Regions from separate parts of the Homo sapiens genome. Here regions 1, 2 and 3 are each reported to be linked to region 4. The links are microRNA targets in miRTarBase. Many come from high-throughput screens and were not tested one by one. Region 4 holds a microRNA gene; each other region holds the end of a gene's coding sequence.

Region 1 (5,147 bases), not on the chromosome of region 4:
CATCTCAGGGGACTCCTTCTGTGTTTCTTTTCAGGTTCATTCTCCAACCAGGCCAGCACTTACTAGATTTCTTCACAACTTCGTCTCAATCCTCCTTATTTTCTCTTTCTAGCTCTTTCTAGACCAGTAGTTCTCAAAGTGTGTTCCACAGATCCTTTTCGGGGGGGGGGGTCATGAGGTCAATACTGTTTTCACAATACTAAATGCGACTTGGCTTTTTTTGCTGTGGTGGCACACTGGGGCTGTGGACACTAAAGTGATGGGATGAAACTGCTGGTGTCTAGTATGAATCAGGGCATGGGCACCAAACTACTAATTATCACTGCATTCTCCCCAATCACGCACTTAGAGGAAAAACAAAGCAAGCTGCACCCAAGACTGTAGTTGATGAATTAGTAAAAAATAAATAATAATTTATCAAACTTTGACTCTTGAGTATGTCTTTTTCCATATAGATACTCGTTATTCTAGCACCATTTACTGAAAAGACTATTGTTTCTCCATCAAGTTAACTTGGCACCTTAGTGGAAAATCAATTGATCATATAATTATGGGTCTATTTCTGGACTCAATTTTGTTCCATTGATCTGTATGTCTTTACTTATGCTAAAACCATATGATTTGATTGCTTTAGCTTTATACACAGTAAGTTTAAAATCAGGTTGCATGACGCATATGCACAGCCAAACACACCCAGGTCAGCTCCCCACCTTTTTTTTTTTGAGACGGAGTCTCGCTCTGTCGCCCAGGCTGGAGTGCAGTGGCACAGTCTCGGCTCACTGCAAGCTCCGCCCCCCAGGCTCATGCCATTCTCCTGCCTCAGCCTCCCAAGTAGCTGGGACTACAGGTGCCTGCCACCACACCTGGCTAATTTTTTTTTTTTTTTTTTTTTTGTATTTTTAGTAGAGACAGGGTTTCACTGTGTTAGTCAGGATGGTCTTGATCTCCTGACCTCATGATCCACCCACCTCGCCCTCCCAAAGTCCTGGGATTACAGGTGTGAGCCTTCACGCCCGGCCAGCTCCCCTTTTTTTTTGAGACAGAGTCTTACCGCCCAGACTGGAGTGCAGTGGCGTGATCTGAGTTCACTGCAACTTCCGCCTCCCATGTTCAAGCGATTGTCCTGCCTCAGCTTCCCAGTAGCTGGGACTACAGGGGCATGCCACCACATCCGGCTAATTTTTGTATTTTTAGTAGAGACAGGGTTTTGCCATGTTGGCCAGGCTGGTCTCGAACTCCTGGGCTCTAGTGATCTGCCCATCTTGGCCTTCTAAAGTGCTGGGATTACAAGTGTGAGCTACTGCGCCCAGCCCCCAACCTTTTTTTTTTTTTTTAAGAAAGGTTTTGCACTGTTGCTTAGGATGGAATCATGATTCACTACAGCCTCCATCTCCTAGGCTCAAGCCATCCTCCTGCCTTAGCCTCCCAAGTAGCTGAAACTACAGGTGTGCGCCACCAAGCTCAGCTAATTTTTTTTATGTTTAGCAGAGACAAAGCTTCCCTATGTTGCCCAGGCTGGTCTCAAACTCCAGAGCTCAAGTGATTCACCCGTCTTGGACTCCCGAAGTGCTGGGATTACAGGTGTGAGCCACTATGCCTGAACAGTGTATATTTCTTTCTTTTTTTTAACAGAGCTCACTCTGTTGCCCAGGCTAAAGTGCACTGGTGCAATCTTGGCTTATTGCAACCTTCACCTCCTGGATCCAAGTGATTCTCATGCCTCAGCCTCCTGAGTAGCTGGGATTACAGGTATGGGCCATCACACCCGGCTAATTATTTTTTTTTTGAGGTGGAGTCTTGCTCTGTTGCCCAGGCTGGAGTGCAGTGGTGGAATCTTGGCTCACTGCAACCTCCACCTCCCAGGTTTGAGTTTCTCCTGCCTCAGCCTCCCAAGTAGCTGGGATTGCAGGTGCATGCTACCACACCCAGCTAGTTTTTGTATTTTTGTAGAGATGGGATTTCACTATGTTGGCCAGGCTGGTCTCAAATTCCTCACCTTAAGTGATCTGCCCACCTCGACCTCCCAAAATGCTTGGCCTCCAGTGTGTATTTCTAACGGGCTATTCTGGGTGATTTTCAAATAAGTATATTTTAAAGCAGACTTTTTTTCCCCTATGGTCATACAGAAAAAGCTCTCCATTATCCTGTGCCATGAATAATACTTGCATGCTCTATTGAGTTATTATGTAAATAGTTAAAACTGTATGCTGTATTTATGAGTTGTTTTCCCTTCTTTTGTGTCGTTAGAGTGGTAAAGTTGAATGGGAGAAATCCAGACCCAATTATCCATGCCTCAGAATCTAAGAGATTTTTAGGATGGCACATCTTCAGTGTCATCTCATCTTCTACCGTGTTTAAGGATGATTCTGCATTCAACAGCTGCTTTAGAGCTTGCTTAGTAAAACAGAAAATCACACACAAAACAACGAGAAAATCACCAGCATTTATTTACTCAACAAATATTTATGAAGAGTCGACTATATACTAGGTCCTGTGCTAAATATCCTGGATATTGTTTATAGGTCAGAAACTGTGGGGAAGAATAAACAGAATGAGGAACTTTTTTCTCCTTGAAAATAATTATATTTTATAAATAATTGAGGCAGAGAGAACTCTAATACTTTCTTTTTTGGAAGAGTCGTTCTCCAAGGAGACATGCTTGGGCCAATCATTTAGCTGAAATGATCACTAAACATACATATATACCTTAAAATTCATGAGCAAGGACCATAATAAAGCGAGGTGTTGTATATGGTATACATTTCTGTTTTCCCACCATATACACAATTTGGGTTATTTTACTTGGTGCCATGGGCTAGGAACTCTTAGGGCTGGGAAACAATCTTGGTTTCCCAACAGTCTATATCATATAGGTGAAAACTGTAAAATACATCACAGTGCAGATGAAATCTAACACTACTAGCTCATTTTGTGCTGCTGTGGAAGCAGTGAATTAAAATTAAGTCCTGTACTGGGGATTGGGCCTTTTGTCAGGGCAACTGAGATCAACTGTACAGAAATTTTCAAATTTCCCTTCTCATCAGGCAAACGGATGGACAATGAAGCCGGTTCAGAGGCCCAGCCGAGACAATGATGCACAGGGAAACTCCCTCGAGCCCCAGCTGTCACCTAGTACTTCGAAGACACTGAGAGGTAATGCTGCAAAGTCGTGCTGTCATTTTTTTAATGTCTCACATATATTCCAAGCAATATGCATTAGCAAACAAATATCCACGAATAGTATCATCTCATTTTCTACTAATAACCCTTTATTTGGTATCTTAAAAAAGATTTTGTAAGACACAAAACTTTCCATTAAAAAGTTGTTTATTTAAAAATACCTTCTCCCAATTCTGATTCCATATCAAATTAAATCAAGAAGTGATGTTACAGCAATAACTCATCAAAGTCATGAGTAGGGAGGATGGCAATGACCCCATTAGCTCATTAGTATAATCTAGTAAGTGAAATAGAAATTCAACTCATTTACTTCTTCACAAAAGGCAAACATAATTGATATACTTCATATCAAAAAACTAGTTTATAAAGCTTGTCTTCATATTTCAGTTTAAGGTTCAACTGATATAAAATGCCTTAAAAGAACATCCAAGCAATGCTTTGGATTTTCTTTCTTTGCAAAATTCAAGGAAAACATGATTGGTTGAAGTTTCTTCACTGCTGGCGAATTAGTTAAGAGCTACCTGAGATTCCTTCGCACTTCCACTCTTCCACTCTTTGAGTTTCCAGTGATTAAAATATGCCAGAGACATAATTTAGAGAGCGCTAGAAATGCCACACAGATCTCATCACTTAAAAAAGAGTTTCTGGCCAGGCACGGTGGCTCATGCCTGTAATCCCAGCACTTTGGGAGGCCAGGGCAGGCGGATCACTTGAGGTCAGGAATTTGAGACCAGCCTGGCCAACACGGTGAAACCCGTCTCTACTGAAAAAAAAAAACAAACCAAAAAACCAAAAACAAAAACAAGGTGTGGTGGTGGGTGCCTGTAATTCCAGCTACTCAGGAGGCTGAGGCATGAGAATCGCTTGAACCTGGAATGGCAGAGGTTGCAGTAAGCCAAGATCGCAGCACTGTAATACAGCCTGGGCAGCAGTGAGACTCCATCTCAAAAAAGAAAAAAACAACAAAACAAAACAAACAAACAAAACACACACACAAAAAAACCAGCAACAGAGTTTCTGACAGGTTTTGAAGTTTTTTTTTTTTTTTTTTTTTGGAGACAGGGTCTCCCTCTGTCACCCAGGCTGGAGTGCAGTAGCGTGATCTCAGCTCACTGCAACCTCTGTCTCCCAGGTTCAACCGACTCTCCTCCCTCAGCCTCCCGAGTAGCTGGGATCACAGGCATGTGCCACCATGCTTATGCATGCGGTTTCACCATGTTGGCCAGGCTGGCCTCAAACTCCTGACCTCAAGTGATCCACCCGCCTCGGTCTCCCAAGGTGCTGGGATTATAGGCGTGAGCCACCATGCCTGGCCAGGTTTTGAAGTTTTTACAGAATGTACAGAATGTAATCATTAAAAAATGACTTTCAGAAACATATACATTCAAAGAAAACCTTTTAGTATTCTAAGCATTGAATACTTTGGGGGAAGAACTGGTTTCTTTTTTGGATTGTTTAAGAAGTCAGTCTTTTCTCAACAGTTTCTTGATAAGCAATAAATCTTCGCAAATTCATTTTCACATTGTCAAGAACACACAGCTGATCTGTGCTATAGTTACCTCTCCCTTCTTTACGTATCTGCAAACAAAAAACAAAAAATCATATATGACTTGGTAGATATGATTAATTCATTTAAATAAAGTATTTAATTTAGGGTGTATTTAACCATTTGCTGAAGCAGATAGCTGTAAGAATTTGGAAAAAATGTTTTTACTTCCAAGGTAAATGGAACTCGGTAAGTAAAGAATAAACTGAGAATGTGCATTATTAAAAATGATAGTTACAAAGGTGACTGAATGGCAGGTGGTAGGAGTTATATAAACTATAGAAAGGAATTATGTAAACCATGAATTGGGAAAATAACCCCTAACCTCTGAAAGGTCTGCTGTTCAGATTGATTTTCCTAGTTAGTATGCATTGCTATGGTAATAATACTTAATTGTTTTTCTTCTCTCAAAGGTATAAAG
Region 2 (5,148 bases), not on the chromosome of region 4:
CATTTTGTATTATGCAGTCTCCATGGCAGTGGTCCCATAAATGCCTGTCAACTTGATTTGACCAGTCTCATCCTATAGGACTCACTGCTGGCCTGTTGAGGAAGAGTTGCAACCTATCTCACTGTGTTATTTCTCTCTTCTCTCTTCTCCCAACCCCTCTTCCTTCTTCCCACACCTGCTTCTCCCACCACCAGTGCATTCCCAGAAGCAGAACAGACAGACCTGCGTCCGGAAGAGCCTCATATGCGCCTTTGCTATGGCCTTCATCATCAGTGTCATGCTGATTGCAGCCAACCAGATACTCCGGAGCGGCATGGAGTAGCAGCCTCCCGCCAGCCACACTGTGTTGCAGCTCACCGCGCATGTGCATGCCGTGCGGGCAGACTCTTCCTCCACACAGCAGACACGGACCTATGGACTATGGATGGATGCGGACGATGGAACCGTTCAGTAAAGAACCCAAGGTTGAGTGCAACTGGGGTTGCACTTCAGCTTCATCTCCTTGGCAGGGACACTAAAGGGCTGTCTTCAGTGCTTTAATGGTTTTGTTTTCTAATGCAATAAATCGCCAGGATTTCCAAATTATTGCTTCAACCATCAGTCATAACTCTAGAGAAAAACTTCATCTTCATCTCGGAATTCCAGCAGCCATCCAGGTATAATGGTGAGAGAGCAAGAGAGAGGCATGAACACACAGTCACCTCCACTCCCCATTCTTTCAACCCAAGGGTCAACAGGAGACTCTCTGCTGAGGTCAACCCTCAGTTCCAAGAGGCTGACTTCAGGGTTGCCACAGAAGAGGGGGCTTTCCATCCCACCCTGGCTTCCTTCCTCCACCCAGTGGAGACCCCCCCAAGGCATGAGGGGAAAGCCATTAAGTGGGGTGCAGCCCTGGCGGTCTTCAGCTGCACCCCTCACCGCTTCCGTTCTTACTGCCTTTTCTAGAGGACTGCCATTGGTAGAGCTGGGGTGCTCTCAGTTTCCGTCGGCACTTGGCTTTCTGTTCCTAGAGCCCATCCCGCACCAGCATTTTGGAACCTGCAGAGAGCCTTTCTCCCAGCTTTGCCGCCTGTGCTGCCATTAGAGAAAAAAAGAAGCATAATCGTGGGCATCTCTATAACATAGACAGATATATATATTTGGCTTCTTCGTGTGTGATGTCATTCTTCCCTAATCGCTTACACCTAATATAAGCTTGTCCTCCCTCCCACACTCATCCCTGCTTCTTTGGGGCAGGGGTGAGGCAGGTTGAGGGGGGAGGGGACTGGGACTGGCGGTGAGGTTTTGATACCCACACCCAGCCATCTGGAGTCATGGAGACCCACCACGTCTCTATGCCGGATGACCTTTGTAAGTTAAGGTCCTTGTGCATCTTACCTTTCCCTTACCTTGGAGTTTGCTTTGTTAGTCTTCCCCAGCTAAAAAGAGAAATGCAATCCAAAATGGAAAGATGGAGAGATCAAACGACTGTATTTTCACATAAGATCTTCTGGCCTTCAGATTCTGCAACTGACTCATTTTCAGGAGGTTGGGGGAAAAGATGTTTATGAGTTTAGCCAACAGAACAGGTAATTTACTCCTGCCTGCAGAATACTTTTCGTTGGGGAAGAGAACTGAATCCAAGGATCTGTTTTCAACACCATTCCAAGTCTGTAATTTCCTGACTTTTCCTAGATGTCAGCCACTACTATGAATTCAAGCTTGTGTAGTCAGATTAGCCAGTAATCTCTAGATGTAATAGTTCCCTTTGTACTTTTCCAAGCTCAGGTCTTTATTTTGTAATGGAATTACCTTGCTCCTACTTCTTTTGATTACATCCTAAAACTACATGCTTCCCCCCTTCCAGTAGCGAGCCACCAGAAGCTTTCTTGTCTCTATGCAGTGGGTAGGATTTTTTGGTGCGTTGTGTGTTCCTGATCTCCCTCCCTGTCTTCCTGCTCAGCTTTCTCCCTACTGCCTTTTCAGACTTGGAGCACCCAAGGTCTCCAATGAAAGTTTTCTCATTCACCTCTGCAAGTGCTACTGGCAACAGCCTGAGGGCAGCTGTAGAAACTTTCCCTCTGTGGGAGACTATGAATATTCCTGATGAGCACAAGTAAAACTAAGGCTTCAGCCATAATATGGAGGAGGGAGCAGATGTAAGCTCCCAAGAGCCTGGGGGATCACAGGTCCCTCTGCAAAACTTCCTGGAGTTCAGCCCAGCAAGGCCAGACCAAGGAGGCAGCAACCTGCCTTTCCCCCTTACCTGCCCTGCTGCCTGCACACTGCATGCCTGCCCCTTCTGCTGCTCCTGTTGGCTGACTCACCACTGTCCCCTTAGGATTGGAATTCTCAACTAGAACCGGTCCAAATGCAGAATATTAATACATCGAACAACTTCATCCTTAATCTCTGCCCTGGGCAGTTTGCCCTCTCCCATCTGGACTTAGATGGGAGGGCATAGCAGATCTTGAAGGGATATACTTTCCTGTTTTTCCCTGACCCCCGAACCACCCAACCACATCCATAGGGGTGCAGGACCCTAAGTAGACTGGGTAGAAACCCCAGGGATGATTCTTCAAAGCCCCCTCCTCCATGAGAGGGGACTGAAATGCTGCAGCTGAGGCTGGTCTTCAGGGCAGAAAATGAGTACTTCTTTGAAGGTGGCTTTTCTGCGAGTTCTTCTGCCTCCTGCTGGAGAACAGAGACCCTTCAAGAGGTGAGGGTTAGATTTCATTGGCAGAGAGATTAGCCACTGTGCAGGAGTAGGGAGGAAAAGGAGTTCTGGAGAGGCGCCGCCATCCTGTTTTCTGGAAAGGCTGCAGGATTCCTTTCCTAACGGTGACCTTCTTCTTGCTCCCAGTGACCTGGAAGCAAGCCCACCCTCCCCAGGGGAAAATCTAGGAGAATGCATTCCTCTGCAGACTGCTAGAGAGAGATGGCAAGAAGGAAGACACAGAATTCTTTCTGACAGCCTAGGAGTTATCTTCCCACTGTGGTAACCCCCCATGTGGCACCCAGGGACTGAAGGACACAGTGCGTGGAGACGGCCCTGAGCTAGCGGCATTCCTTAGACTTCAGGAGCTCAGAGTTTGTCCCGGTGACTTGCACCCTGGCTGCTTTGCTTGGACAGTTTGTCTTGGGTATAGGGAAGCCTTCCTTGTCAGGCAGCCAACTCCCAGCCCTGTTCACACAAATTTTATGCTAGGGCCCCATGCCAGTCAGTGTCCCCATCATGGTGGCTATGAAGCTCACGGCTGAAGATTCCAGAAGGTCCTGGTCTCCCATGCCCAAGGGATGCCATGTAGCCCCAGCTGGAAGTGACTTCCGCAGGAATTGAGAGGGAATAGCTCACCCCTCATTCTGTCCTCCGGACTTAGGAACCAGTGACCTTGGCTGCCCAACTGTGTGGAGGCTGAGTGATTGACAAACACAGGTTGGCTCATTCTTGCTGCAAGAGCAGGTACCCCCCGCCGCCCCCCTGGAAAGCACAAGTGATGAGCAAGAAGGCATTTTCCTTGGGAGAGAAGGGGAAATGGACCCTGACCCCCTTGATCCCCAAAGAAGCTGCGCCCCACCTTTCCAGATACCCACAAAGCCCCCAGACAGAATCTAGCATCGGGACTATTAGCAATGGCTTCCAGAATGTGCTTGGGTCCCACGTGACTGATCTGACAAAAAAAAAAGAGGGATATTACCATGGCAACCCTTGCATTCCACCCTGAGTTTGCCAAGGCACACAAAAATAGGGAACATTTTCTTAAAGAACACTCCAATTCAGCCTGAGTGCAACCTGACTCTCTGCATCTGTATCCTGCTGGGAGAGGCAATTACCCTTAAAGAATCTGGGTGGTATCTCTGCCTTTTTGTCTGGCATTTGAACTTGTCCTTCTATTTACTCAGGAGAGCAGGAGCTACCTGTAAGCCCTGGTATCTCCCCATCCCTACTCCCAGCCCCTTCTCCCAGGGTCCAGAGCCAGGACCCCTTAATCTAGGTAAATTGACAGAAATATCATCTTGGAAGGCAAACAAGATATTAAGCCTCCAATCTTTAAAAGTATCGGTTTGCCTGTTGAGCACACTCCTGCAAGCCAAACACGTGAACTTTGGTGAACTGAGGTTTAGGTGTGGTCTTAGGCAAACCCAGTGGTTTCAGAAATGTCTGGGTGTTTTATTTGCAGAGAACAAGATGTGTCTTATGAGTCTTCTTTCTCAATACCTGCCCTGTCTCAAATCTCACTTGACAAATGGTCTACGATCTTGCAGTTATCCAAAAGAGCCTATGAAAAATGGACAGCTGCTTTTGACAATAATGCCCCTCCCAACTTCCCATTCATAGAATCATAAAGCGATATGTTTCAGAACTGAGAGAGAAAAGTTTACCTTTTATTCCAAATGCCTCGTACTCGGTTTAAGTCCAGACTCAGGTCATAAATCAAAGACAGTTTTGCACGTTGCTCTTCACCTAAATCTAGCAGTTTCCCTGAGGCCCTATGAGGGCATGGACAGAAAATGAAGGATGCAACCACCCAGGACAGCTCCCTGGTTTGGGCTGGCCTGGCCACGTGTGGTCACATGTCCTGGGATCTGTGTTTACTGTGTCCTTGCTCTCCTTCCTTGCAGAAGCTGCTAAGCTCTGCTCCTCCTAACTGCAGGTCTCAAACCCTATTGGGTCATTTTGCCACACTATTTCTCCAAAGGCCCATAGTCATTACATTTTTTACCATTTCACCAAGATAACAGGGGGGGTCTGGAATTCCCCTGCTAGGAAGGGCCCCTTTTCCTATATCACCGTGATGGTACAGATGAACTGAGATGAAACTTTTAGACTTCAGCACGTCACACATCCTGGTTGTATAACCAGGAGGTCTGCAGAGCTGCAACCCCTGAAGAACATCTGTCTTAAAAGACCTCAAATCAGAACATTCTCATTGGCCTCTTCAGTGATCCCCATGGAGCTAAGAGTCCGTAACCTAAAGGCCTTACCATAGCCATCTTCCCTCCACACCTGATTGCTCAACTGCCCCAGAAGGGGAGAATCTATCTGAAATAGAAAAGAAGCATTAAGGACCAGGTGCGGTGGCTCACACCTATAATCCCAGCACTTTGGGAGGCCAAGGCAGGTGGATCACTTAAGATCAGGAGTTCAAGACCAGCCTGGCCAACGTG
Region 3 (5,148 bases), not on the chromosome of region 4:
CCCGGGCCCCCGTGCGTGGCGAACGCCTCGGCGAACGCCACGGCCGACTTCGAGCAGCTGCCCGCGCGCATCCAGGACTTCCTGCGGTACCGCCACTGCCGCCACTTCCCGCTGCTTTGGGACGCACCGGCCAAGTGCGCCGGCGGCCGAGGCGTGTTCCTGCTCCTGGCGGTGAAGTCGGCGCCTGAGCACTACGAGCGACGCGAGCTCATCCGGCGCACGTGGGGGCAAGAGCGCAGCTACGGCGGGCGGCCAGTGCGCCGCCTCTTTCTATTGGGCACCCCGGGCCCCGAGGACGAGGCGCGCGCGGAGCGGCTGGCGGAGCTGGTGGCGCTGGAGGCGCGCGAGCACGGCGACGTGCTGCAGTGGGCCTTCGCGGACACCTTCCTCAACCTCACGCTCAAGCACCTGCACTTGCTCGACTGGCTGGCTGCACGCTGCCCGCACGCGCGCTTTCTGCTCAGCGGCGACGACGACGTGTTCGTGCACACCGCCAACGTAGTCCGCTTCCTGCAGGCGCAGCCACCCGGCCGCCACCTGTTCTCCGGCCAGCTCATGGAGGGCTCCGTGCCCATCCGCGACAGCTGGAGCAAGTACTTCGTGCCGCCGCAGCTCTTCCCCGGGTCCGCTTACCCGGTGTACTGCAGCGGCGGCGGCTTCCTCCTGTCCGGCCCCACGGCCCGGGCCCTGCGCGCGGCCGCCCGCCACACCCCGCTCTTCCCCATCGACGACGCCTACATGGGCATGTGTCTGGAGCGCGCCGGCCTGGCGCCCAGCGGCCACGAGGGCATCCGACCCTTCGGCGTGCAGCTGCCTGGCGCACAGCAGTCCTCCTTCGACCCCTGCATGTACCGCGAGTTGCTGCTAGTGCACCGCTTCGCGCCCTACGAGATGCTGCTCATGTGGAAGGCGCTGCACAGCCCCGCGCTCAGCTGTGACCGGGGACACCGGGTCTCCTGAGGCCAGTTGGGCGGCTTCAGCCCCGGGCCTCCAACCATGTCCATGCTGAGAAGGCAGCTTTCCCGCTCTGGGTACCTTACGTCCTGCCCAGCTCTGTGCACCTGAACCCCAGCTGCGCACTGAAATCAGCTGGGGTGGGGGGTGTGGAAAATGCCTACATCCTGGCTCCATCTCCCGAAGTTTCGATTTGATTAGTCTGGGGTGGACCCAGACATGTTAAGTATTTTTTAAGTTCCTCCAGTGATGCGAATGTGCAGCTAGGCCTGAGGACCACTCGGCTAGACTATCTCTTCATCCTCGCAAAGCCAGCTCCACCGCCCTCTCTGCAAGAATTCCGGGCCCCTCGCTCCCACACTCGGGTCCTCTTGAGCAGTGGAGCAAGGGAGACCTGGGAGCGTGGGAGCCAGGATCAGCGCCCCCTGCCATGTGCCTACAAATGTCAGTTGTGATTTCCACTGTTTACAAGTGAGTGGAGCTGGAGCTGGGCTGACAGTATCAGGTGGATCCCGCTTCCCCCTCCCCCAAGAAGTCAGCCAACACGCAGCTGAGGCGCATGTGGTGGCCTTCTTCCCACCACTACCCCAGTACACCGTGAGGTAGAAATCTTCACCGTGCAAAGTGGAAACCAGAGGCCCGGTCAGACAGTGACTAATCCAGGGCCGTGGCATTCCCAGACAGCACACCACTGTGGTCCCCTCCACACTCACCCCAACCAAAGCTAATGGCCTAGTTGGGTCCTGCCCGCCAATAATCACCCCCACGGGTCAGAGACAGGCTCCTTGCCGGGGTCTGGGCCTCAGGCTCAGTGGGCCTTGGACAACCCAGCAGGGAGTTCCGGGGAGTCCGAAGTGGAGAAAGGCTGGTGGGAACATGGAGGCCAGTGTTGGGGAGCCTGTGGAGGCAGGTGTGTAGAATTGTGTTCGGGAGGTGGGGGATCTGAGACCGAAGTGGACAGTGGTTAAGATTGTGGGGCCGGGCGAGGTGGCTCACGCCTGTAATCCCAGCACTTTGGGAGGCTGAGGAGGTCGGATCATGAGGTCAAGAGTTCGAGACCAGCCTGGCCAATATGGTGAAACCCCGTCTCTATTGGGAGTACAAAAATTAGCCGGCCATAGTGGCTCGTGCCTGTAATCTCAGCTATTTGGGAGGCTGAGGCAGGAGAATCACTTGAACCTGGGAGGCGGAGGTTGCAGTGAGCCGAGATCGTGCCACTGCACTCCAGCCTGGGCGACAGAGCAAGACTGCATCTCAAAAAAAAAAAAAAAAAGGAGAGTTTGCAAGGGTGGGTGGGAACTTGGTGCCTGGGGCTCTGAGAACCAGGCTGTGGTCCTGACCTCCAGCAGCTGCCAGTCATCTTGGCAACATAGAAAATCAAGGAAACGGCCTAAAGGCAGGCAGAAGTGTGTGTCAGCAAGGTCCCAACTATGTAAGATGGACACGAGGGACTCACCTTCAGGGAGGAAAGAGCCGGGGCAGAACGTCAGGAGACTGGCCAAAGGTCCTTCCCTGCCTTCAGGACGAAGACTAGACTCCTCAGTCCTGCATTTCAGGCTCCTGCCACCCGCCTGCTGCTCACTGATCCCTCCCTCCCACTGTCAGCCTCCATCCAGGTGGCAGTGCCTGCGCTTTGTCAGGCTCTCTCTTGTCTCTGCATTTTGCACAAGCTCTGACCTAGTTACCGAAATGTCCTCCAACCACCTCCATCCTGCATGTCTCTTGCACCAGTTAGGACGCCTGTCGGGGAAGCTGCCAGCTGCCCACCTGAGTCGGCTGTTCCCTTCCTCCTGGGCACTCACCTAGACTCCATTTCCCAGCACTCCGTCCCCTGAAGTTAGATGTGGCCCTGTGACTAGGCCCTCATGGATGGACGGGAGTGGATGAGGATCACTGTGGCACCTGGGCCTGCTTATGCTCTCTTCCTCCTTCCCATTCGCTGGAACATGGATGGGCCTGGGACCCAGCTCTGACTTTGCAAGTGAGGACAATGCTTCAGGCCCAAGTGGAAGTTTCTCAACTACTGACATTTGGGGCAGGACGGTTCTTTGTTGTGGGGGGCAGTCCCGTGCATTGTAAAACATTCAGCAGCATCCATGTCCTCCACTCACTAGATACCAGTATCACAGCCCAAGTCATGACACCCAAAGTATCTCCAGACGTTGCCAAACATACCCTGGTGGGAAAATTCACCCTAGCAGAGAACCGCTGGCCTAGAGGAAGGCAGAGAAACGAGGATTCCTGAGTTCCTGCACGGAGCAGAGCAGCCCGGGGACCAACCTGGAATACTCAGTTCAGACTACTGAGGAAGACAAAATAAACTTTTATGCTTTTAAAAAAAATTATGGACAGAACAATATAGACAAAAACTTTTATGATTTTTCAGCTTCTGGGGTTTGTCTACTGTTACAGCAGCCTTGCCCTGCTAGTGTTTTAGTCTGTTCAGGCTGCTGTAACAAAAATACCATAAACTGGGTGTCTTACAAACATTTCTGAAAGTTCTGGAGGCTGGGAAGTCTAAGGTCAAGGTCCCAGCAGGTTTGGTGTCTGGCGAGGGCCCATTCCTCACTGCCTTCTTGCTGTGTCACTGCATGGTGGGAGGGGCAAGCAAGCTCCCACGGCCTCTTTTACAGCGGCCCAGATTCCATTGGTGAGGGTTCTGCCATCATCACATCATCACCACGTCACCTTCAGGGCTAGGATTTCAACGTAAGAATTCCGGGGGGCCGGGTGTGGTGACTCACGCCTGTAATCCCAGCACTTTGGGAGGCTGAGGCGGGCAGATCACGAGGTCAGGAGATAGAGACCATCCTGGCTAACACAGTGAAACCCCGTCTCTACTAAAAATACAAAAAAATTAACCGGGCATGGTGGCAGGCACCTGTAGTCCCAGCTACTCGGGAGGCTGAGGCAGGAGAATGGCGTGAACCTGGGAGGCGGAGCTTCCAGTGAGCCAAGATCACGCCACTGCACTCCAGCCTGGGCGACAGAGCAAGACTCTGTCTCAAAAAAAAAAAAAAAAAAAAGAATTCCGGGGAAACATAAACATTCCAACCATAGCACTTAAGTCACCTGCTGTGTCCCCTTTCATCCCTTGTTTTTCACCAAGTAGACTGGCTGCTCCCAGAGGGAGAGGCCATGTCTGATTTACATCAGGGCTGTCACAGATTTACACAGAGGGAATCCGTGGCAAGTCCCATCACTCCCACTCCTGGAACTTGAGTAGGTCATCTCACCTCTCTGAGCCGCTCTTTCTGATAAGATTTGGCTCTGTTTCCCCACCCAAATCTCATCTTGAATTGTAATTCCCACATGTCAGGGGAGGGACACGTAGGACTGGACAGGCGGGAGGTGATTGGATCACGGGGTCGGATTCCCTCACGTTCTTGTCGTGATAGTGAGTTCTCGCGAGAGGTGATGGTTTTAAAGCGCGGCACTTCCTCATTCTCGCACACACGCCCTCCTGCTGCCCATGAAGAAGGTGTCTGCTTTCCCTTCGCCTTCCGCCATGATTGTAAGTTTCCTGAGGCCTCCTAGCCATGCTTCCTGTTAAATCTGCAGAACTGTGAGTCAATTAAACCTCTTTCTTTTATAATTACACAGTCTCAGGTAGTATTCTTTATAGGAGTGTGAAAATGGACTAATACACTTTCCACAGTGATGTTCCATGCCAGGGCCATGTAAATCCTCTGTAAACCACATAGGAGGGTACTGTCATTCTGCAGGCTTACTGGCAGCTCTGAGAGGTTGAAGGAAGCAGGAGGAGGTGGCACTTCTGTGACCTTTCTGCAGCCCTTGCCGTGGGCCTTCAGTAGCCACAGCCACTTGTCACTTGCTGATCTATTTTCTGAGCAGGCCATAACAAATACTCCTACATGCTTTTGGGGTGAATGGATGAGTGGATGAGTGCCATCTGTCCCAGTGATGTGGACTGTATCTGTTAGGACAGCAGTCCCCAACCTTTTTGGCACCAAGGACTGGTTTTGTGGAAGACAATATTTCCACAGACCAACGTGGGGGATGGTTTGGGGAAGATTCAAGTGCATTACATTTATTGTGCACTTTATTTCTATTATTATTACATGGTAATATATAATGAAATAATTATACAACTCACCATAATGTAAAATCAGTGGAAACCCTGAGCTTGTTTTCCTGCAACTAGACAGTCCCATCGGGGGTGATAGGAGACAG
Region 4 (5,140 bases):
ACCCCCAGCTTATTCATTTTGCCTTGGGGGAAACTCGGGCTCCAGTGAAAAGTGTCATGCCCTGAGCCACCTAGCAAATGAGTGCCTCGCTTGGCTCCCTGCTGCCCACCAGTTAAAGTCTAGCCTCCTAAGCCCTTCCCTTTCTAGCCCCAACATGTTTCCCTTCTCCTGCTGCATCTGTGTTCCCAGCCACCCAGCTTCCCCGATCCCAGCACATGCGAATCCCCTTGGCACTCCGTGGCTTCACTCTCACTGTTCCCTCTGTCTGGAACAGCTTTTCTCTCTCTGTTCTCCTCTGTCTAGTTCTCATCTTCTGTTACTTGGCTCCAATTCCAGCCTGCCAGTGAAATGTTCCCCAACTGTAGCATCAGTTGCCTTGTCTCTGTGTCCCTACAGTGTGTGCTTACCCTTTTGGCAGAGTGTGAGTCTCATGGTGTTGTTACTGATGGACTTGCCTTGCTTGTTGGAGTGTGAACTCCATGAGGCCCGGCACCTTGTCTCTCTGGTTCATGGTTGTGCATCTTGTGCCAGAATCTGGTGTCAGTCAGGTGCCTGGTAAATGGTTTTGGATGGATGAATGGACAGACATACGGATGACTGATAGATGATAGATGGCTGGCTGGCTGGACAGAATGGATGGATGAATGGATGGATAGATGAGCTGATGAATAATGGATGGGTGGATAGATGGGTGGATGGATAAATGGACAGATGGATAGATAAGTGGATAGATTAATGAATGAATGAATGGATAAATGGAAAGGCAGAAGGATGGATAGATAAGTGGATAGATGGATGAATGGAAGAATGGATAGATAGGTAGATAGATGGGTATATGGATACATGGGTAGATGGATAGATGGATGGATGGATACATGGATGGATTGATGGATACATGGATAGACAGATAGATGGATGAATAGACAGACAGATGGATAGATGAGTGGATGGATGGACCAATGGGTAGATGGGTGCATGGATGGATAAAACTAGTGAATAAATAGTACCACTTTGGCAAAGGTCTAAAAGAGCACTTTGGGCCCCTTGTAATTAATTCCTTGGGGTGATGTTTTCTCAGATTACATTAAAGTCATCCTGGACTACAACACCGCCCACAACAAAGTGGCTCTGTCAGAGTGCTATACAGTAGCTTCTGTGGCTGAGATGCCTCAGAACTACCGGCCGCATCCCCAGAGGTTCACATACTGCTCTCAGGTGCTGGGCCTGCACTGCTACAAGAAGGGGATCCACTACTGGGAGGTGGAGCTGCAGAAGAACAACTTCTGTGGGGTAGGCATCTGCTACGGAAGCATGAACCGGCAGGGCCCAGAAAGCAGGCTCGGCCGCAACAGCGCCTCCTGGTGCGTGGAGTGGTTCAACACCAAGATCTCTGCCTGGCACAATAACGTGGAGAAAACCCTGCCCTCCACCAAGGCCACGCGGGTGGGCGTGCTTCTCAACTGTGACCACGGCTTTGTCATCTTCTTCGCTGTTGCCGACAAGGTCCACCTGATGTATAAGTTCAGGGTGGACTTTACTGAGGCTTTGTACCCGGCTTTCTGGGTATTTTCTGCTGGTGCCACACTCTCCATCTGCTCCCCCAAGTAGGCAGGCTGTAGGCACTTGGGCTGACTGCCTGCAGAAGTCCCAAGACCCTAGTGAAAATACAGCAGGCAGAACTCTCCTTGGATAATTCCCCAAGAGGTCCCAAGGATTGGGAGCATGGGAGGGGAGCTGGCGGGAGGGTGGGAGGTGGGATTTAGCCAGGAAAGGGGTGAGAGTGATTGTGTTGTGGGCGAGGAGGCGTTTCCACCCCCTGGTGCCTATCAGGGCAGGGTGACCTACTCCCCATTGTTCTGGAAATCTCCAGGCTGCTGGGCAGCTGGGCAGAGCTCTGGGAAGTGAAGTCATGAGTGCCCGATTCCTCTTAGAGAAAATCCATAGCTACTGTAGGTTCTGTCTTGGGCCACTTGGATCTGAAGGCTGCCCCTTTGCTCTCTGGGGTAGCCTTCAGATCTTGGTGTTTTGAATTCTTACTATAGATGTTTTTAAAGTTCCAAAGTCATTGAGTTTCAATGTTACATAAACTCCATTACCCGCATGTTGGGGCTTGATCTCCTGGTTATTATCTGTGCTTGAGGAAACACCCACAGCAGTCTCTACCCAGAACAGTTTCCTAAAGAGGCATACCCTCTTCCTCCACTGGAAAATAGTGCGTTCCCTTCCTACCCTGCACACCCATCGCCCCCACATTGATGGTTTTCAAACAGCAAACTTTTCAGCTAAAGCTTCAAACCATGATTGGAATCAGCCTGTGTTGGATTTGTGATTCAGGGTCATGGTGACCCTGATCCAGTTTGGGTGGAAATCCTTCCTAAGTATCATAAGAAGCATCTTGGCAGAGATGCTTTGGTGGCAGCCATGAGCTTTGCTGGAGGCCTTGCTTCCCATAGCCTTGGCTGTGGGGCAAGGAACTCTGCCAGGCGAGGGGGATGCTGCCCTGGATCAACAGAAGCCTGGTGGGTTTGCTCGTGTTAGAGTGTCCTGCCTTCTTACTGACAACTCTTCTCGGTGATAGCCTCTCTTCCCTGGATTGTGACATATGGAATGACAGTGCAGGTACCACCGAGGCTAGCACAGTCAAGCCTCCAGCTAAGCTGGATCCCTGAAGCCTGCTATCATGCAGACAGGCTATGCGGCTGCCTCGGACCATGCTAGGCCACTTGCTGGGGTGTCAACCTACCACCAAAGGGGTCTTTTAGCAAACCTCATGGGGAACAGGAACATTCCTGTTCATCCCTGGCCACAGGCTGCAGACCCAGCACTGGCCCTTGCGTGAGTCAGAGCCTGGGGCTGGCCCTAGCCCCTTCTACTGACTTCCTCATTTAAGCCAATTATATAAGCTCACATTGATCAGGGAGGGAGGGAAAGAGCTAAAGAGGGTCACACAAGTGGCTATTTTCCCTGCAGTGTTTCTGTGTGGTGAAAATAACCCAGTCCACTAAGGGGCGGGAGTGAATGGATGGCTGGATTTTCCCCAAGCTCCTTATAGCCTAATGTTGTCAGGATGTGAGTATGAGGAATTTAGCCTCTTATAGTGAAATGAGTCCAACTCTGGGCTTTGCTTAGAGGAGAGCTCCTGTCAGGCTTCCTATAATATGAAAAGAAGTCACCATTGGGGAACTAGAGACCCCAGACCTTTTCATATGGATATTTGAGAATGTAATGCATCTCAGGCCTCGTGCTGGAACTCTAGGGCACTCTAGGCAGGCTCAGAACACTTGATATTCCTGACAGCTACACACCTGACATGCAGGTACATACCTGATCGGTGTCATCTCCTAACAAGGATTTTCAGTTCCTCGGGAGAGCAATAATCTTTGTAGGAAAGACATCCCTGCAATAGGTGATATGTGGTCCTTAGAAGTTTTATTCCTTTACTACTTGGAAGAAAAGTTCTTTGGTGATTCTTCTCTGCTTTTGAAGATGATCAAAAGCATCTTCATTGATTTTCTGAAACGAAAGCCTTGTCTGAAACCAATTAATACTTGGGAAACAGCTGGGCTTGGAGGAGTAGAATGCCAGAGATAAATCCATGGCTCCTGCTCTGGCTCTCTTCTGCAGAAATGAGGGCAACAGTGAGGCCACTTCCCTGGCAAATGTGCAGCTCAGGATAGGGAAGCATAAGACCCTCTGTTTAAAAGAGAGTCAAGTAGGTAACCAAAGCCAAGCTCTGTGCAAGGTGCTTTGGAGTTGTAAATTGAGGAGTGCATCCTTGCTGTCTTGAACCATTCTGTTTGCAATGGTGAGACCTTACATAACCTAGCCTTGCAGGGCCGCCACACAACCCTGGAGTCCTAGAGTTGGAGGAACCTTTGTATCCATCTGACTTCTCATTTTGCAGAATATGATGAGAAAGTAGAGGATCGCTCTGTTCACCACTCTTGCTATTCCATTAGTGGGGAGATGCCTGCTAGCATGTGTGAGGGGAACACTCTGATACACTGGGAAGTATCGGAAATTCCCAGAAACACAAACATAAAATAACTCTCCTAGACCCAGGTACTGGGGACTGTCTCAGTCCGTGTGGCATGATAAATAAAAGGTTAGGATCAAGTCTTTGTATTTTTCAAGATGTGGTAGCTGATTATTCCTGTTTTAAGTACTCTGAAATTGATCTGTGATCAATAATACTAATATGTTATCTTTTACCGTATTCTGCCTCTCACTATTGATTTTAATTAGTTAGGAGTATTTGAGCTGTTATTTCTTGAGCTTAATATTTTTTTAGAGTTAACTCTTTAAGGAGATAATCATGGCTGTAGACAAGGCCAGGGCTGGCTGACGTGCCTTAGAAGGTTTGAATGCAATAAAGCGGTGTTTGGCGTTCTCCTGCATTGTAGTGCGGGTACAAAATGCTATTTGTTCGTCATACTGTTGTCAGCAGATGAGCCGCCCACTACAGACGGCTACTGCCCAGGGACCTGCCCAGGCCCCACCCAAGGGCTCCCAAGGGTTGAGATTTCTGCAGACCTATAGCCAGCACACTTAGTCCTGCCCTATATAGAGTTCCTCTTCGGGAAGCTTTTGATAAGGAATTCTCAGACCGATAGGATGTCTGTCTGGGCTTTGCTGCGGGACAGTCTAACTGTGGGGGCTAGGGGAAAGCAGGAGAGTATCGATCAAAGAGTAAGCCACACACGGATAATCAGTTACTAGGGATGGAGGTGTGAGGGTTCATTATATTATTCATTTTACTGTTGTATATGTTTGAAAATGTCTATAATAAAAAGCTTTAAAAAAAAAAAAGAAACAAAAATAGTTCAGGCCAGCAATGGGCCCTCCATGTTCAGTGGATTTTATCCTTGTTTCAATTGGGGTAGGAGTTCCAGGAGGTGTGGATTGGAGGTTGTCTAAAGAATTGAACTGGCCTTTGTCCCTGCTTCCTGGGAGGGAGACTTTCAGTCCTTGACATTTCCAGGGTAATAGGAGTGTCTTTGTTATTTGTGAGGCCATGGGATCACACCTGAGCTTATGCTAAAAGGTGGGATGACTCAGAGCTGGGGCTGGTCACCAGACAGACTGACCATGTGATTAGAGGTTTGAGGCTTTGAGTCAGCCTGACCTATGGGGCGGGGGA

What was found. The annotated mature microRNA hsa-miR-3614-5p reads CCACUUGGAUCUGAAGGCUGCCC and lies in region 4 at 1,967-1,989, shown strand. An mRNA with a match to its seed (bases 2 to 7 or 8) in the 3' UTR can be bound and repressed. Matches are read on the target gene's strand: a 7mer-m8 pairs with bases 2 to 8, a 7mer-A1 pairs with bases 2 to 7 and ends in A, and an 8mer does both.
Region 1: miRTarBase lists HEATR3 as a target of hsa-miR-3614-5p. Seed matches in the 3' UTR shown: 7mer-A1 at 3,887-3,893.
Region 2: the mRNA of CALN1 is a reported target of hsa-miR-3614-5p. Seed matches in the 3' UTR shown: 7mer-A1 at 3,471-3,477.
Region 3: the mRNA of B3GNT6 is a reported target of hsa-miR-3614-5p. Seed matches in the 3' UTR shown: 7mer-A1 at 1,423-1,429.

The regions. Positions count from the first base shown.
Region 1 is chr16:50,104,550-50,109,696 of GRCh38, reverse strand. It overlaps HEATR3 (HEAT repeat containing 3), which reads right to left. Exons shown (of 15, transcript NM_182922.4): 15 at 2,425-4,758. The coding sequence ends at 4,636. Among named protein-coding and RNA genes, the nearest start is that of HEATR3-AS1, 41 kb to the right of the region's middle.
Region 2 is chr7:71,782,949-71,788,096 of GRCh38, reverse strand. CALN1 (calneuron 1) reads left to right here. Exons shown (of 7, transcript NM_031468.4): 7 at 195-5,148. The coding sequence ends at 322. Among named protein-coding and RNA genes, the nearest start is that of MIR3914-1, 480 kb to the right of the region's middle.
Region 3 is chr11:77,039,747-77,044,894 of GRCh38, forward strand. It overlaps B3GNT6 (UDP-GlcNAc:betaGal beta-1,3-N-acetylglucosaminyltransferase 6), which reads left to right. Exons shown (of 2, transcript NM_138706.5): 2 at 1-2,227. The coding sequence ends at 960. Among named protein-coding and RNA genes, the nearest start is that of ACER3-AS1, 6.6 kb to the left of the region's middle.
Region 4 is chr17:56,888,168-56,893,307 of GRCh38, reverse strand. It overlaps MIR3614 (microRNA 3614), which reads left to right and starts at 1,953; the gene lies at 1,953-2,038. TRIM25 (tripartite motif containing 25) reads left to right here. Exons shown (of 9, transcript NM_005082.5): 9 at 1,079-5,140. The coding sequence ends at 1,608.